2 separate regions of the Homo sapiens genome follow, and region 2 is linked to region 1. The links come from fine-mapping of genetic effects on gene expression. A gene starts in region 1. The other region holds a variant in brackets. All regions are shown on one strand. Distances are from middle to middle.

What was found. PIP is the estimated chance that this variant, and not a neighbour inherited with it, causes the effect.
Region 2: its variant is the best candidate, but not a certain one, in a credible set for the expression of SOX12 in whole blood (TOPMed, PIP 0.71).

The regions. Positions count from the first base shown.
Region 1 is chr20:323,015-328,378 of GRCh38, reverse strand. SOX12 (SRY-box transcription factor 12) reads right to left here and starts at 2,827. Exons shown (of 1, transcript NM_006943.4): 1 at 1-2,827. The coding sequence starts at 2,454. The coding sequence ends at 1,507. NRSN2-AS1 (NRSN2 antisense RNA 1) reads left to right here and starts at 3,127. Exons shown (of 3, transcript NR_109990.1): 1 at 3,127-3,237. RefSeq lists silencers at 938-1,227, 1,268-1,337, 1,698-2,187, 2,208-2,267, 2,338-2,717 and 2 more.
Region 2 is chr20:294,894-300,257 of GRCh38, reverse strand. It overlaps ZCCHC3 (zinc finger CCHC-type containing 3), which reads right to left and starts at 2,688. Exons shown (of 1, transcript NM_033089.7): 1 at 1-2,688. The coding sequence starts at 2,671. The coding sequence ends at 1,460. RefSeq lists silencers at 2,245-2,314, 2,495-2,584. The variant C/T (reference allele first, on the strand shown) is at 2,976.

The sequences.
Region 1 (5,364 bases):
CCTGAGATTTGTGTGTGTGAATGAGAGTGTGTGAGCCACCCGGGAGGGTGAACACACGCCGGTGAGATACAGGTAGTGAGGGCAAGGGGGGTGTGGGGAGGCCGGAGGGGCGGGGCGGGGCAGAGAGATGGCGGCGTGAGAGGGGCCACAGCAACAGGGACAGGGCTCCCGAGGGCACCCTGAACTGGACACAACTTCCTCCTAACAGCAGCGTTCTCCCCATTTCTCACGTGGAAAAACCGAGGTGCAAACGGCCCATCACTACTCGGAATCCATTCTCAGTCTCACTGGCCAAGTCGATGGTCTCTCCCAAACCAGATGTTTAAAAGCGAGAGTCTTCCTGCCATCACATCTGCTCTCCACGCCTCAGTCCCAAACCCCTAGCACCAAAGTGCCTCAGTTTTTCCCGCTGTATACTGCAGCTTGAGTACTGAGGGTGGACCTGGGTGACAGGAAGGGCCGGTGCGCTCAGGGAGGAGCCCAGGTTGCGGGTGCCCTGAGGTGAGGGGGCACTTCCCAGGAGGGGGTGGGGAAGGTGCAGCAGGGATCCTGTCCCCAGACAGACTGGTAAGGTGCCTTGGTTTTTAGTTTTCTTGGGTGGTCCCTTCCTCTACTGCTGGATTTCCAGAGAAAGACCTTACCTCTCAATTCCCAGTTGGGGGGAAAAAGGGACGTATAGGTAGGCTGTAGAGGCAGCCACGCGACCGGAGAGGTGGTGCGCGTGGGTGTAGGAGACCCCATACCGGAAAAGGGGCTATGCCACTTGGGAGAGTTTCAGGCCCAAACCAACCCTTCCGAGTGCTCCTCCCATTAAGGCAGCGACGCCCCGTTGGCTGGAGAGGAAACCTAGGGCTCCCGGATCAAAGGATTTCCCAGGATCGCTCTACACTCGCCCCCGCTTTTGCCCGGAGCGGGCGAAGAGTGCGGCTCCGCTGGGACCAGCCCCCTCCTCCCCAGAAGCATTAAGCATGCGCACGAAGGGGGTGGGCCCCAGCGGAGGGGCGGGCCCTAGCGCTCCGGGGATAAAAGGGGTGCGCCCCTCCCCCCAGGGAAGGGAGGGGCGCAGGAGGCGCGTGCGTTGCCACCCGGCCGCATCGCCCCCCTAACCCAGAGAAGGCGGGCCGGGCGAGGGAGGAGAGATTCCGGAGCAAAGGAGGGGGCGGGTCCTCCGGCCACGAGGAGGGGCGTGTGCAAAAGGGGGGAGGGGTGCAGGTCTGTAGGAGAGGACGGGAGGTGTATCGGAGGGGGCTGGCTGCTGGTGGCTGTGCAGGAGGGGGCGACGTGGGGAGGGGCTTGGGTGTCGGGGAAGGGGTGGGGGTTGGGCTGCCTTGGGGTGTGTCTGCGGGGGAGGGGCATGTCTGGATCTGAGGGGGGATGGGCACGTCCAGGAGGGGGCAGGCTGCGCGGGAGATGGGGTGCCAGCCTCGGCCTCCGAGGGGCCCCAATACCTGATTCCTGTATGTAAACAGCTGGTTTGGGGGCGTGCGCGCCCCGCTGACGGTGGGCTCAGTAGGTGAAAACCAGGTCTGCGATGCTAGACGGGCGCCAGTCCCCCGCGATCATCTCGGTAACCTCGGGGGTGCAGTAGTCCGGGAACTCGAAGTGCGACGTGCCCGAGGGAGGCTGCAGGTCCGGGTCGCGATCCAGGGCGCTGCAGTCCAGGCCGGCCGGGCCAGGGGGCAGCCTGGACAGAAAGCCCAGCGACTCCTCCCCCGACGCCACCGTCTCCTCTTCACCTTCCTCAGCCGCTGCCGCCTCCTCCTCCTCTTCCTCCGGCTCCTCGTCCTCCGACGGTGTCGGGGAGGCGGCGGCGGCGGCGGCCGCCCCCTCGCCCGACGGCCCTTGGGCGCGCTCCGCTTGTCCCCGAGCGGCCCGTCCCGCCGGGACCATCCTCCACAGCTCCCGCCCCGGGGTCTCGACCAGGCGCACTTCCAGCAGCTCCTCGTCGTCGTCTTCATCGTCGTCCTCGGGCGCCGCCGCCCCGCCCCCCAAAGGCCCTCCCGCTGCTCGGCGGCCCCCGCGGCCAGGCAGCTGCGGCCCGGGCTTGAGCCGGCTGCCGCCACCGCTACCACCGGGGGGGCGGGGCCGCGCCTTGGCGGGCGCCCCCTTGCTCTTTTTGCGCGGCCGGTACTTGTAGTCCGGGTAATCCGCCATGTGCTTGAGCCGCAGCCGCTCCGCCTCCCGCACGAACGGGATCTTCTCCGAGTCCTGCAGCAGCTGCCAGCGGCGGCCCAGGCGCTTGGAGATCTCGGCGTTGTGCATGTCGGGCCACTGGTCCATGATCTTCCGCCGTTCGTGCTGCGACCACACCATGAATGCGTTCATCGGCCTCTTGATGTGGCCGCTCGGGGTCTTGCACCAGCCGGGCTCGCGCGCCCCCTCCTCGGCCGGCCCGGGTCCCGGGGGCGGCGGCCCGCCGTCCCGCTTGGCCCTCGCGCCCCGCTGCTGCACCATCGCGCCTGGGCCCGGGGCCGCTAGACGCCGCCGGGGGCCGTCCGCATCCTCCGCGGCTGGGGGTGGGGGAGGAGGCAGCGGCGACGGAGGGGCGGCCCCGCCCCGCGGCTCGGCCCGGCCCCCGCGAACTGGGGAGCGAGGAGCTGGGCGCTCGGGCCCAACGGACGGCGGGGGGAGAAGGTCAGCGCGGTCTCAGGCGGGCTCGGCGCGCCCCCGCCGCCTCCGGCAAGTTGCGTCCTGGCTCACAACACACATTGTTTTGCGGGGGCCGAGGAATCGCACCCTCCGGGCCCCCGCGGGCTCTTCCTGCAGCCTCTGGCTCCGCCGCGGCCCGCGCGCGCCGCTCCCCGCCCGGCCGCCGACGCCTTTCAGTGTCTTTCTCCCCGCGCGGCCCCGCCGGCGCGCGCACCACCCCTCCCCCTCGCCGTCTGCGGGCCGCTGCGGCGCGCGCGGGGCCGCCCCGTGTAAACACCGAGGTGCCCGCTTGGGCTGCGGCCGGGCCCCGCCTCGCGCTCGGGCGCCGCGTCACCCGTTGCTGGGCAGAGAAGCCGGTATTTGCATCTCCCAATCGCTGGCCGCCGGAGCGGGGCGGGGCTCGGGCTGCGGGGCTGGGCGGTCTCGCGGCTAGGATTGGGGGAGACCGGCGAGATCGGTTTCTTTTCTTAGGTTAGGGGTTGGAGGAAGGGTAGGGGACGCGAGCCTGCTTCCATCTGACGCTGGACGCTTGTCCCTGCCCCGCGTTGCCTTTTAAATTTTAGCTCATTCCGAGACACCTGCCGTCAGGTAGGATTTCCGCCCTTTCCTCTTTCAGGGACGTCTTTTCGGACCATCCCAGAAGAGAATTTGGGGGGCCCAAGACTCAGGAAAGCTTCTTAAGGGGACGAACTCAGGTTGTCGTAGATGTTGCCCCCCGCCTACTACACACAGGGTCCGACCACATATGGGACCAGCAAATGCTTTTGGACCTAGTGAACAAATCCCTTTCTCATATATATGTATATTTAATCTCGTTCGAAGCTCCATAAGAATCCGGAGGGAGAAGGGAATATGATAATATGATGCCCAGTTTCCAAATAGGAAGCACCGAGGACACGCAGACTAGGATTCGATTCCCAGGCTCGCGGTCCCAGCTGTCTCTCCCCTGCTCAGCACCAAGGGCCGCGGGGCACCTCGCCTGCCAGCCAAAGGTCCTGAGCTGGGCGGACTTCCCGCTTTTCACAAACCGCAGGCGACATTCGAGGATGCGTGGGTGCGCCATTCCCAGGTCCTACCCCACCCCGTAGCCTGCCCGGTGCCCGACTTGGGCGCGTCGCCCCACCCAAGCCTGGAGAAGCGTGCAGGGGCACGGGGCGGAGCCAGTCCTGGGGGCGTGGCCGGGTGGCCGGCACGAGGCGCGTGGCGGGGAGGGGCCGCGCGCTCCCGGCTCACCACGTGTGAGCCAGTTCGGGCACCACTGGGCGTGTGCCGCCCCTGGGGGAGGTCACCTTCACGGCGTCGTGAGCATGGGCGATGGGAGGGGGCGCTGAGGCCTCGCCCTTGGGAAGCAGGAGCTGGGAGGTGCCCGGATTAGGGTCTTTAAGGTGGCATTCCGCTGGGGCGTAGCGGGCATGGTTTGGGGCTAGGAGAATGCGCCTCTGGCGGTACAGCTCACCCACTTCTGGACGAGCGAAGGCCAAGAGCCGAGCTTGAGGGTGTGGGGCGGGGAGGAAGGACCGAGGTGCGGCTCCGCGGCGCGGGGGGCGGGGTGGGGGTGGTGGGGAGAAAGAAATTGGAGCATCCCTGGAGGGAGGGGGCGACTCTTAAAGGCACAGGGTGCTTGGAAGAGGAGGCCCTGCTCCCGTCCAAACGGTCCCTCCGCCTTTCAGAAGCTGAGATCTGGAAAAGCCTACGTGTAAAACCTTTACATCTGCAGCCTGAGCAGTCTACCCGATGGAGTCACACTTCCTGAGTTCACATTCCCAGTCCCTCCTTTTCCTTATCCTGAAAATGGGGATAATTCAGTTTCTCCCTCACATGGTGGTTTTACAGATTAAATGAGATAATGCATGTAAACACATCCTGATACCTAGGCAATGTTCAATAAAACTTATGATAGACGGGACGCGGTGGCTCACACCTGTAATCCCAGCACTTTGGGAAGCCAAGGCGGGCGGATCATTTGAGGTCAGAAGTTCGAGATCCGCCTGGCCGATATGGTGAAACCTTGTCTCTACTAAAAGTACAAAATAATGAGTCAGGCTTGGTGACGCGTACCTGTAATCCCAGCTACTCAGGAGACTGAGGTATGAGAATCGCTTGAACCTAGGAGGCGGATGTTGCAGTGAGCCGCTGCACTCCAGCCTGAGTGACAGAGTGAGACCCTGTCTAAAAAAAAACTAAAAGTTTTGAGAAACTAGATTTCCCAATAGTTACGCAGGTCACCAGCAACCCAGAGACATCACCATAATGAGAAAAAAAAATGGGCAGAGTGGGGACAGCTCTAGGATTTCAGAAAAGGTATCAAAGTAATGATTGTAGGACAAATAAAAGCTTTCTTGGAATTATCAACACCTTAACACTTTTCCCATAAATAAAATATTTGTTTTATTTTAGACGGTGTGTGATAGGTACCACAATCTTTTCAATGCTTATGGCCTCTCAAAGATCTGTCTCTGACCCTGTAGCTGCTGCTGCTATTATTATTCCAATGTATGTGAATAGTTCCTAACCTTACTCACTGCCAAACTGATTTGGACCAGGATTTCACTCTTTATTCTCAGCAGTGAAAATGCTGCATTCATTATTCACACCTGCCTCCTTTCCTTCTTCCATCCATGCATGCATCCATTAATAAACATTTGACCCTGCACAGTGGTTCACAGCTGTAGTCTTAGCACTTTGGGAGGCTGAGGCAGGCAGATCACTTAAGGC
Region 2 (5,364 bases), 28 kb after region 1:
TAAGCCACAAGGAAATAGCAAAACATATAGCAAAGGAAAAGCAAACACTAAAAGAAAAGCAGTGTACTGTCTTTTCTACTGGATAACACTTAGTTGGCCCATGACCTCTCGCTTGGCCTATCTCCCAAGTACATTTTAGAGTTAACAGCTCACTCATAATTTTGGGTTAAAATCCATCTTTCTCCTGAGAATCAGGAGTTGCACATGAGCTCCAGCTAGCTGCTTCTCTAGGGTTCGTAGCTATTGAGGCTAAGGTGCAAATGTAAACCTTTGGTAGGTTTCTTTACACAGGGGCACCCCCATTTCTCACTGGTGGCAATGAATGGGGAAGGGGTAGGGCCTCCAAAGGACCTGGCACACTGTAATCCAGAAGTGGTGCCCCAGGGAGCAACGAATGCACCCTGGAGTGTGGTCCTTGGTCCGTTCCGTATCTCCCAAGTATTCAGAAGCCCCTCCTTAAAAACCTTCTCTTTCTGCTCCCTCCTCCAGGTGATTTCTCAGCATTCCTCTGGGCTGATCATTCTGGAGAGATCAGACTTTCTGGGCCCTCAAGTGTTGAGGAAATTGTTGTGAAGTGTGAGAGGTAGTGGAATGAGCACCGGGCTTGGGGTCAGGGGACTCTACTATAGGCTGGCTCTGGCACCAGACAGCTATGTGATTTTCACCCAGTCATTTAACCTCTTTGGGCCTGTTTCATCTGCTGGAAAACCAGGGAATTGGTCCAAACCAACTCTCAGGTTCTTTCCAGCAGGAATATTCTAGATTCCATGATTCTATAAAAAATGGCTTCTGAGCCACCAAAAGAGCTGTCATGAAGTCCATGCATCTTTGTGCCATAAGAGAGGCCCTTGGCCACCATTCAGAGCTTATTGATTCAGATTATATACACTTCTAACAACACTGGTTTCACAAATTCTCAGACCACGTAGATTAAAAGCAGCAAATTAAATGAGGGAGGGGAAGAGCTGCAAAAGGTAGACACTCTGATAGAAGCCACAGTCAACAATGTTTTCAATTCAGCAAACACTGATGGAGTGCCTACCACGTGTTGGGCCCCGTACCTAGTGCTGGGGCATAAAGATGAGCAAGGCAGCCCAAAGGGTGAAAATCCAGGGGAAGAAAAGGTATGGGGCGGGGAGGGCGGGAGGGGGGCAAGGAGAGAGAGAAAAAGTACAAGAAACAAAACAAATACCCAATAGAAAAACGAAAATAAAATTTTAAAAGGGAGGGGCAACACATCTGCACGCTACAGTTCTCCGCAGTCGTTATTGGTGACAGAGTCACCAATTCAGAACAGGCTGAAATGGAGTAAACTCGGTTTAAGAAGGCATAGAGAGATGTCTCTTGTAGGTTTTAAAAAGATCTCCTTCAAAAACGATAAAAAATGGTTTAAAAAAAAGTTTTGGCACTTAAGAGGGATAAGCTGGCTGTGTGTTCACCCTGGCAGGCAGGCGGGTGTTTAGTGCCCGGCCACGCCGGTTAGCTGAGCTGCCACGGAATTGTGCACTGCTTTGGGACACTGGGCAAAGGCGTGTCCTCGCTTGCCACAGAGGTTGCACACGATGCCCTTCCGGCAGTAAGGGCTCAGGTGCCCCTCCTCCCCGCACCTGAAGCACCTGTCCTGCGTGCAGCTGCCGCTCATGTGGGTCCGGGAACCACATTTAAAGCATGTCTTGGGCTGCCCCTTGTACCAGCTGTAGCCCCTCTCGGCCCCCAGGAAGAAGGCCCCTGGCAAGTGCCTGACCCCGCCCTCCCCCTGGCGCAGCTCGATCTCGCATTTGTACTCCCCGGTCCAGATCCCAAACCTGTCGGTCACTTTCACCGGCACGGCCAGCACGTCGCAGTGGCGCTTGAGCCAAGTCACAATGTCCTCCACGTCCACCGTCTCGTTCCGGAAGAGGATGAAGAGCGTCTTCAAGCTGGACTTGCTCCGCCCCAGCACCACAAAGTTCTCCCAGCAGTCCTCCTGCTCCCGCTTCTCCTCGTAGACGCGTAGGAACAGGGCCAGCTTCTCCGCTGAGCGGAAGCTCACGTCGAATTCGCGGCTGCCCGGGATCTGGATGACCGCGTAGATGTCGCTCGGGTCCATGCCGATGGAGCGCAGGATAAGCGCTCCTACCACGAAGTCCCGGGTCGGGCAGGCGCCCTCGTCTCCCTGGAAACAGATGCGGACGAGGAAGCGACCCTTGCCCGGGCCTGCCGCCGCCGCCGGCTCATCCTGGAGGGGCCGCTCGGCCGCGTCCTCGGCCTCGCCGGGCCTGGCCGGGGTCGCCATGGCGGCCGCCGCCGCCTCGGCCTTCTTCCTCCTGCCCGCCTCCGCAGCGCCCTTCTTTTTGCGGGGGTCCACCGCCTCGCCGGCCGGATCTCTCCGACGGCCCTTCGGATCCCCGCGGCCAGCCGGTGGGAAGTCGCCGAGGTCCGGCGCCGCCAGGCCCGCGGGGCCGCCGAGCCCGGCGCTCCCTCCACCGCCGCCGCTTTCCTCCTCCCGCCGCGGCGGCCGCGGCTCGCGGAATTCGCCCTTCTTCTCGGCTAGATTCTTCACCACCTGGGCCCAGCCCATCTTCTCGCGGCCGCCGTCGGCCTCCTCGCCCCGGGCCGCGGGCCGCGCGGGGGGCAGAAGCTGCGGCCGCCCCCGTTTCCTCTCTTCCTCCGCGCCGCCGCCGGTGGCCATTTTACCTCCTTCCCAGCATCCTCCACTCGCTCCCGCAGCCAAAGGGCGCCCATCGCGCGCGCCCGCCCGCCGGGGCTGTGTGGGTTTGGTTTTTTTTTTTTTTTGAAATTTGACGCTACCCTCCCCCGCCGCGCCCTCAAAGGTATCACATGCGGCGCATATTGGCCAGCGCCGGCTCTGCGCCCCCTGCGCTGAGCCTCTCTTCCGCCAGCGCTCGCTCCAACCTCACCTCCGTCCGCAGCGGGATGGGGCGCCCGGAGGCGGCCCTTTCCCCAGCGCGGGTTTGGCAGCCTCCGGCCTCGCT[C/T]TCGAGGATTTGGCGTTTCGCAAGCGGTGCTCGACGATTTCATGCTAGCAGCTTTGCTAACGGCCCACAGCCCACAGGCGGGACGGAGTTCGGCAACATCTCTCCCATTTTTTCTTTTTTGTACCTTTTCTGTTAAAAAAGCAAAAGCAATAGCAAAATTAAAACTTAGCTTTCCGTTTCCCCAGAACTGACTGCAATGCGTTATTTTTTTTCCCACGTCGGATTATGCACGTTTTCAAGAAGAAAAGTTGAAAGTTTTACAGTGAACATTTTACCATTAACTTTTTATCATTAAAATTTTACTCTGTCACACTACGCCTCGATCCATTCATCGGTCTTTATTTTTTGATACATTTCCAAGTAAGTCATATTGCATTAATTTTTATTTTTTTGAAAAGACTTTCGTCGTATTTAGGATGAAGTGTGAGTGCTGCTTAAGTTCCCAGTACTGTGTTAAGCACACTTCAGACTTTATTACATGGAATCTTCCAAAAACAATGCTGTAATTATGCCCATTTTACAGATAAAGAGGCAGGAGTTAAGTCACTTGGCGGAGTTAATAGGCAGCCCCACGTATAGGTAGCTTATATTTCTTTCTTTCTTTCTTTTTTGAGACGGACTCTTGGTCTGTCGCCCAGGCTGGAGTGCAGTGGCTCAATCTCGGCTCACTGCAGGCTCCGCCTCCCGGGTTCACGCCATTCTCCTGCCTCGGCCTCCTGAGTAGCTGGGACTACAGGCGCCCGCCACCACGCCTGGCTAATTTTTTGTATTTTTAGTAGAGACGGGATTTCACCGTGTTAGCCAGGATGGTCTCGATCTCCTGACCTCGTGATCGCCCGCCTCGGCCTCCCAAAGTGCTGGGGTTACAGGCGTGAGCCACCGCGCCCGGCCGGTAGCTTATATTTATTTAACCACTTTATTTCTGACGCCGTGGATCAAGAACTGTGCATCAGATCCTAGGAAACCTTGTTAACAGGCAGATTCCCTTCATCCCAACTGCTGGTATTGGTCTCAGGGGAGCCACTGACTTGGGCCGTTTGCACTTTCCAGTCCTCTCACTTTATATCCTCAGGCACCATTTCCTTTATCCCTTCTCAGCCACGCATTCCCGTGATCATACTCGGAACTTCACCATTACCAGAAACATCAATGTCTTAGATTCACATACTTCTCTGTTATTCTTTCTACTTGCCTGGTCAAGTTTCACCATGAGGAGAATACTTACACAACCAAACAATAGATGTATTTTAAACAATCTCTTCCATTCCTCTTATCTTAAGCCCTCACTCCAGGTAACTATCACATAATCAAATATCTGCAAGGGTCAGGCAGGTGCCTTAAGTAGAAGATATACTGGGTGAACTGGAGATCGAATATTCTATCTGAAGGGGCAACTGCTAGTCAACTGTAGCTGAATATTCCTCTCCAGAAGTGAGGGTCCACTGTGGGGGGATCTTTCAGTTTCCAAAGAGAAATCTGAACTCCAGTTTCTTCTTTTATGGGAAACATTCTTCTCTCTCTTTCGTCTTCTTTAAGATGGTCTCAGCTATATTTGGAACCTCCATATAAATTTCACAACCTGCCTACTAAGTTCCAGGAAACTATGAGATCTTAATTGGCGTTGCACTGCATTTGTACAGAATTACCACTTTATAACACGGAGTCTTTCCATCAATGACCCCACTTGATTTCTCACTTATTTAGGCCTTATTTTATGAATTTCAATAAAATATTATAGTTTTCTTCATAAAGGTCTTACATACTTTTGGGGATTTATTCCAAAGTACCACGTGGTTTGACTGCTATTGTAAGTGAAATTATTGTAAATCAGAAGTTACATATGGTTTGTTGGTGTCCGTTAGAGGAAACACGATTGAATTTTGTGTACTGACCCCATATCTGGCAACAAAGTTGAAACCTTAAAAAATTTCCAGTGGTTTTTGGAATCTCTTTACTTTTCTGTATTGCCAATCATATCGTCTGTGAATAATGAAGGTTTTGTCTCTTTTTTCAAATCTTATACTTTTTCTTGTCTTACTGCACTAGTCAGGAACTCTCATATAATCAACGTATTTTGAGCATTTTTGTTTTGTGTTGGACTTTAAAGGCATCTGTCTGTATTTTGAAAATATTTGACTTGTGGATTAGGTTCTGGCTCCATGTCCAATTTTGCTAATCATATCTTCTTCTGTTGTACAATTTCATTGGTATGTGTAGGGCCATCCTTTTGGTCAGTTTCATTTTTTCCAGGTCAAATTTTGCAGAGATTATTACATCAGGAGCTACAGGGGCCAGGCAGGTACCCTGCAAGGAGAGCAGTCCGGATGGGCACTGAGGCCGTATGGAGAGAGCAGCTCTGGAGGGCTGTGCAGATGATAAGAAGGAATGT